Homo sapiens: one gene and its partner. The protein of the gene in region 2 interacts with the protein of the main gene of each other region in a biochemical or structural test. Each region holds a gene or a part of one and is shown on either strand. Other genes may lie near its edges.

Region 1 (3,747 bases), on a different chromosome or scaffold from region 2:
CACAGCACCTAATGCTGTTATATGTGGCTTCAGGTGGGAGTTCCTTATAGTGGCTTTTCACTAAATGCAGAAAAAGATGTCCTAAAGGGAACCAGTGAGCAGTGGCAGAAAAAAGATCACCTTCTATTTATTTAAAGTACAATTAGAGAACTTAAGGCCCAAGTTTCTTAAAGCACAAAAGGATGGCATTAGAGTTTTTTTTAAATAATATAATTTTTTAAAATCTCATCTTCTAATTTAAATGAAAAAGTACAAATATTGCCAGTCTGAAATAACTCATGTCCCAAAGGAAGAAAAAAATATTCATTCTAATTTCCTCTGAATTTAACTGGACTATATTTTTTAAACGACTTGGCCTTTAAAGTGCATAATTTACTTAAAAGGAAACATAATGAAGATGGAAAATACAGCTTTATTTTCTGTGTTGGGAGACTTCTCTTTTGTTTCATTGTCATTAACTTTCAATATTTCTACATATCAATGCATTCCCGGATAATTAAGGGGCTAAAATGGGCCCTGCTGTTTCATCAATTCCACATTTGCCTAGGATCATAAAATGTTTCATTATGTTATTAGTCCAGAGCTCTTTTTGGTGATTTCTAAATCTCCTCCCAGACCCCTCTCTCTAGCACACACACACGCACATGCACACGCACACACACACATCACCCCTTTCTCAAGCTGCTAAAGCAAAATGCCTGATAACTCTTAAAATGAGAGATGCTCAAGGACCGCAGCTTTAATATTTTCTCCTCTTAGCACCCCTACCCCTCCTATTTTCTGAATGTGTCCCCAAACTTACAAAGCAGCTCTTAACAGACACAAGGGTGAGTTAACACTAGAGTGTATATAAACTGCATGTGTGTGTTCCTGTGTGTGTGTGTGTGTGTGTTGTGTCACATTATGTCATGGAGAAAGGGGTGTGTGTGTATGGAGAGGAGAGAGGAGGTTTCACTTTCCATCTATTAAGAAAGGAGTTGAATACATTCCTCTCAAAAAATGTTTTCTTAACTTATTAGAAACAACAACTCAGAAACTCTAAATATCTAGTAAATTAGTAACAAATATATCCTAAATTTATGTGGGTCAAATTAAAAGTTTAAGGGTCTATGTACTGGGCAGTTCTTTAAATTTGCATTCAAATGAGAGATGGGACTCCAGGTGTGTCTTCTAAACTTTGGACCTAACCATTTCTGGAACCATTCCTGGGCTGTCAGGTGGGAAGACGGGTGCCAGTAGTTCCGTGAGAGACGTTTCATGTCAGCTAGCACTGGGAGGAACAAGCCCCCACAGCTTACCTAGAAATGCCAGCTAAGAGTCATGGGCTGACAGGCTCTGGGGCAATCAGAGAATCAGAGAGAGGCTGGGAAAATGAGAGCTGCTTGTTCAGGCTGCCTTACTTTCTTTGCACCTACCCAGCCAGAGACACACCTACTAAAGCTCCAGGTTTTACAAAAAGCAAAGATGCACTCTCCAGCCCACCCTGTCTTGCTCTCCAGCTGGTAGCTGGAACACGGTCCAAATACATGCTTAACATCACAAAAACTTCTTTCCTTTCACTTACCTAAGCACACCCGAACTAACCTAACCTGAAACCCCAAAAATATGCCTCCCTTGGCCTCTGGAGCAAGTCAGTTTTGAAAGCAGTCCTATCAGCAAAGACACCAGGCAGCCTCTCTCACCCCTACCACCATCATCTGCTGGCACCCAGAAAAGTGGCACAGGGTGAAGGCAAACTCGATCGAAGAGCCCTCCGAGAAATCGTACGTTCCTCTCACTTACTTTGAGTTGGAAACGTCCTCTCTGGCGCTCAGTCTGCCTTTGTTGCAAGGGGCGAGGTTGCTACCGCTGAGTCCAGGTACCCGGCTCGCTGCAGCTCCTGCTTGGGCCGCTGCTGCTCTCCCCGCCTTCTGGACGGATGACTCACTGGTCTCTTTCTTCCCCTCTCTCCACTTTGGATTTTCCTCTGCTCTGGGGCTCTCTTGGCGGGATTTTTGGACTGGAAGGCGGGGAACCTGATCCTGCCTTTGACTCAATTACGCCCTGACAGGGAGGGAACGGAAGGGAAATGGAGAATGGGAGGGATGAGAGGAGCGGGCCAGGAGGACGAAGGCTGGGCGAGGGAGGGAGAGCGCTTTGCACTCGAGAGCTGATTGGGAAGCTTATTAAAAGCAGAATACTCCAGGGGCAGTCTCTCCCTGCGGAGCAAGAAAACGGATTTGAACCAAGAGGCCATGAGATGGTACCTTGTTTTGTTTTTAGCAGAGACGAAACACAACATTTCTTTTCCAAACTCCACCCATGATCTATTCTTCAGATGAGTGCAAAGCCACTTTGCCAAATAGGATATTTTAAATGGACAATTGATGGCATTTTAGGTTACATTTTTGGCCCCCCACAATCCTTTAATGATATTCAGAATGGAAAAGCACTCTCTTCAAACCAGCCTCTTCTTCCACCCACGAAAGCCCTCTCTAAACACAGAGACAGTAAGGTGTCAGTCACATCTCACCTGCAAAGCACAAAATGTACAAAGTACTTTTTCTCAATTGTCACAAAGAGTGACAGACGTCTCAAAGTTCCCAATTAAGTGCTACTTACCTTTAGGGAGAGCTCTTTCCTTTTTTGGTTTCCTTGGTGCCTTTAGCAACCTATTTAGTAACATGCCTTTGACACCCAAGAATTTAGAGGATTCGTCAAAGTAGCTCAAACTCTGAGGTTTGTAAAACTTGGAGGCTGGGCTTTGCGTCTCTGGAATTGTCATTTCATTCAATACAGGAAAGACGCTAAGGCAATGCATAGGTAAATATTTATGATAAAGATGAGATAAAAGTATTGTGTAAAAGGATTAAGATGTATTATACAAATTCACCCAAACATTTTCGAAATGTAAATTTCGAGATTTTCTGCCACTTATCAGCTTTTCCTGCTCCGTGGCTAGCTCCTTTTACCTACTTTTACCTTTACTGGTCAGCTTATCATTTGATGGCGTCCTTCCCAAATTGGTTGTAAAATAGACCACATTTTTCATAATTCTGAGGTTACATCCCTTCATTTCAATTTGACAAATATTTATTAAGCAATTTGTTTACTTAGAACTATCCTTAAATCCCCAAATTAGAAGCATTGTCTTGTGGCAAGTAGTTTTTAGGGACTTGGGGCTCTTCTATTGACAGCTACCTGTAGAAATGTCCCTTGGAGAAGTTGACTGGAGCCAGACGTGGCTCTACAAACTCAATCAAGCAGTCAATCAAGCTTTTCAAAAGGAAAGGCATCAGAGATGCACTTACACACCTACAATTTATCCCCCTTCCCAAACTCTTCATATACATACCACATACAATTCTCAAATGAAATAACTAAATAAGGAAGCTGTGTTCCTTTCTCCTACACACAGGCTTCAGGTTACCTGTTTTCCTTTTGTGATTCCACTTCTGTGTGAAGCAAGCAGTGCTTGTTTTAATCAGATTTCACCTGTATAAAGTGTGGAGAAACGCACATTAGCATTTTTTTTTGGCATTTTTCCCAGTCCCTTTACCAAAAAAGATATCTCAGCATTCTATTAACACTCCATAGGGGCAAAGTTTCTAAGGCATTGAACAAAGAGCTATCCATTTTCTTTCTGTTCTTCAGCTTTATGTTAACATATACAAATGTAACATACAGCTAGCTACCAGTTAGGTGAACAATGCTGGCTTGATTGAGGTGTTCTCTATAGGGCTGATAAAGTAAGCATGAGATTCCCAT
Region 2 (3,747 bases):
GATGAAAATCAAACATATATTGTACCAGGAAAGTATTAACTACCATAGCATTTTCCTCCCTCTTTTCTTTCTTTTCCACCCTTCCTCCACCAAGATAGGAGCATATTTTCTTCTCGGGTGAGATAATTCTTTGCCCTGAAACTTGTAAAGTCAGTGTATCCAGTGTGACTTCCAGAGAGAGGGCAGATGCCTGTCAAATTAAGTGAGTTGCCAAACATAGAGCAGGAAGAAAGCCATTCCGAGAATCAATATTCCTTTGTTACTGGGTCTTCCACTTGCCAAGGCATTGCCACAAAGCTGGAAAGGCCCAGCTCCTAGGAGAACAGAGGTTCCACCTGGCCACTATCTCCTGTGGGGTGGTAGGCAAGTTACTGCGGCCCCCAGGAGCTCAGTGAGGGAGGTTCAATGTGACACTGTGCTCTGATCCTGTGAGAAAACTCCTGTGCTACCCGACAGGCCGTGAGCTCCAGAGAGGATCTTGCCTTATTCTTAGCTTCAACAGTCAGCCCAAGGCCTGACAACCAGCCTTTAAGAAGGAATCAAGGGGATTTGTGTGACCCAAAGATGGTAGTTTTGTCTGAGGATCTAGTGAACCACTTGTTATAAAAACAGCTATTATGAGTTCTGTGTTGGCAGCTCAGGAGAGACGAAAGGAAAGGGAGAGGAGAGGTACAGCCATTACAGGTGAGTAAAAAAGGCCTAAGGTTCTGAACCCTCATTCCCAAGATTGTGGGCAAACAATTAAATGCTCTGCAACTCAGTTTCTGCATCTGTAAATCTGGAATTAAAATGTTTGCCTTACAGAGACTAGGGGAGGTTACACATGTTCAGACACCATTCTGAGAAAACAGAGCGACTGACAGGGGTCTGAAAGGTATTTGTTGTAGCTGCAGAACAACTCTGCCAGACCAAGACCATCCATCCCTCTCTGCCCCCCTATTCCCAAATTCTCCTGTGTGGACGGCAGGACTCCTAAGCTCCCAGGAATGCATTCAAATAATAGATGGGTCAGAAAATATTCTGTCTCAGGGCCTTAATACAAGCTGTTCTCAGATTTGCCAGTGTCGCGCTGCCACCCTCTCCCCACTTCCTCCTCCCTTCCCACTCCCCCCTCCCTTCCCCTCTCCTCCAGTTTTATTCTGGAACCTGTTTTTCCGAAGTCGGACCCGTTTAATCTCTTAAATGTATAATTAGGGAGAGTGCTTGATTGCAAAGGCCTCTTCCAGTTCTCACATTTGCTCCCTTTCACACTGCAGAGAAATAGGGCAGGGAATCTAGAGGAGGGGAAGAACAAGAGACTGGAGAGGGAACAGAGGGAGGGTGGGGCGGGCTCACTCCTTTTCTCAATGAATGCCGAGGCCTCTGCAGATTTGCATAGGAGCCGATCGAGCCACGCCATTGGTTGGAGGGTGCGGGTGGGGCGGGGCGAGGCCGGACTGCGTGGGTCGGGCAGCAGCGCGGAGTTGGCTTGTGAGCCCCGCCCCCTCCGGGCCCCGCCCCCTCCCTGCGCGCGCTCGCGCGGCTCAGCCAGCTGCAAGTGGCGGGCGCCCAGGCAGATGCGATCCAGCGGCTCTGGGGGCGGCAGCGGTGGTAGCAGCTGGTACCTCCCGCCGCCTCTGTTCGGAGGGTCGCGGGGCACCGAGGTGCTTTCCGGCCGCCCTCTGGTCGGCCACCCAAAGCCGCGGGCGCTGATGATGGGTGAGGAGGGGGCGGCAAGATTTCGGGCGCCCCTGCCCTGAACGCCCTCAGCTGCTGCCGCCGGGGCCGCTCCAGTGCCTGCGAACTCTGAGGAGCCGAGGCGCCGGTGAGAGCAAGGACGCTGCAAACTTGCGCAGCGCGGGGGCTGGGATTCACGCCCAGAAGTTCAGCAGGCAGACAGTCCGAAGCCTTCCCGCAGCGGAGAGATAGCTTGAGGGTGCGCAAGACGGCAGCCTCCGCCCTCGGTTCCCGCCCAGACCGGGCAGAAGAGCTTGGAGGAGCCAAAAGGAACGCAAAAGGCGGCCAGGACAGCGTGCAGCAGCTGGGAGCCGCCGTTCTCAGCCTTAAAAGTTGCAGAGATTGGAGGCTGCCCCGAGAGGGGACAGACCCCAGCTCCGACTGCGGGGGGCAGGAGAGGACGGTACCCAACTGCCACCTCCCTTCAACCATAGTAGTTCCTCTGTACCGAGCGCAGCGAGCTACAGACGGGGGCGCGGCACTCGGCGCGGAGAGCGGGAGGCTCAAGGTCCCAGCCAGTGAGCCCAGTGTGCTTGAGTGTCTCTGGACTCGCCCCTGAGCTTCCAGGTCTGTTTCATTTAGACTCCTGCTCGCCTCCGTGCAGTTGGGGGAAAGCAAGAGACTTGCGCGCACGCACAGTCCTCTGGAGATCAGGTGGAAGGAGCCGCTGGGTACCAAGGACTGTTCAGAGCCTCTTCCCATCTCGGGGAGAGCGAAGGGTGAGGCTGGGCCCGGAGAGCAGTGTAAACGGCCTCCTCCGGCGGGATGGGAGCCATCGGGCTCCTGTGGCTCCTGCCGCTGCTGCTTTCCACGGCAGCTGTGGGCTCCGGGATGGGGACCGGCCAGCGCGCGGGCTCCCCAGCTGCGGGGCCGCCGCTGCAGCCCCGGGAGCCACTCAGCTACTCGCGCCTGCAGAGGAAGAGTCTGGCAGTTGACTTCGTGGTGCCCTCGCTCTTCCGTGTCTACGCCCGGGACCTACTGCTGCCACCATCCTCCTCGGAGCTGAAGGCTGGCAGGCCCGAGGCCCGCGGCTCGCTAGCTCTGGACTGCGCCCCGCTGCTCAGGTTGCTGGGGCCGGCGCCGGGGGTCTCCTGGACCGCCGGTTCACCAGCCCCGGCAGAGGCCCGGACGCTGTCCAGGGTGCTGAAGGGCGGCTCCGTGCGCAAGCTCCGGCGTGCCAAGCAGTTGGTGCTGGAGCTGGGCGAGGAGGCGATCTTGGAGGGTTGCGTCGGGCCCCCCGGGGAGGCGGCTGTGGGGCTGCTCCAGTTCAATCTCAGCGAGCTGTTCAGTTGGTGGATTCGCCAAGGCGAAGGGCGACTGAGGATCCGCCTGATGCCCGAGAAGAAGGCGTCGGAAGTGGGCAGAGAGGGAAGGCTGTCCGCGGCAATTCGCGCCTCCCAGCCCCGCCTTCTCTTCCAGATCTTCGGGACTGGTGAGCAGCTCCCGCCTGAGTGTGCCGGGATTTAGTGTTTTTAGTCACATTGATATGCAACCATTAAATAATCTTCACTTCCACCCCACTTTCTAAAACCTCAGCTCTGCTTCATCGCCCTCCTTCCTCCCGCAAACCTCCTTCCCGAATCAGACCGTAGTTTCTTGTTTTCTCCCTGAACGCAGTTCAGGGGTCTTCCTTCCTCTTTAGCAACCAAGTTGGGGGAAAAGTTTCATACTCTTGGCAGAGCGCCTTCTTCTCTGGACTTATACGCTGTCCGAGACAAAATTGGGCGCCCCTCTTCCTGGGCCCCGGGACAGTTGAAATGCCCCGATTACTTCCAGGTTCCAAGCTTAGTAGTAGATGTCAAAACTATTGCCCTTCTCTCCCTCTTGTTCCTGGCCAGCACAGATTTGGGAAATATGGTACCTTCTCAGGGAATATAGAATTTCTCTTCATATTATTGAATCTCACCCAACTGTCCCCATTCCAAACGTTGGCTTGGGCAGGTATTGCCAGGGATTGTCTCTTCTTTATTTATTTATTCTCCCCCTCCCACCCCCACCCAGTCTGCTATGCACTCTCGACTCATCCTTTCT

What was found. Proteins that work in one complex are often made in the same cells at the same time.
Region 1: the proteins of ALK (region 2) and PTN form a complex in vitro, tested with the Homo sapiens proteins (one study listed by BioGRID).

What each region holds. Positions count from the first base shown.
Region 1 is NC_000007.14:137,341,657-137,345,403, forward strand, and holds the start of PTN (pleiotrophin isoform 1 precursor), read right to left. Parts: upstream 2,078-3,747; 5' UTR 1,783-2,077; intron 1-1,782.
Region 2 is NC_000002.12:29,919,394-29,923,140, reverse strand, and holds the start of ALK (ALK tyrosine kinase receptor isoform 1 precursor), read left to right. Parts: upstream 1-1,554; 5' UTR 1,555-2,481; coding exon 2,482-3,148; intron 3,149-3,747. UniProt on the Homo sapiens protein: Neuronal receptor tyrosine kinase that is essentially and transiently expressed in specific regions of the central and peripheral nervous systems and plays an important role in the genesis and differentiation of the nervous system.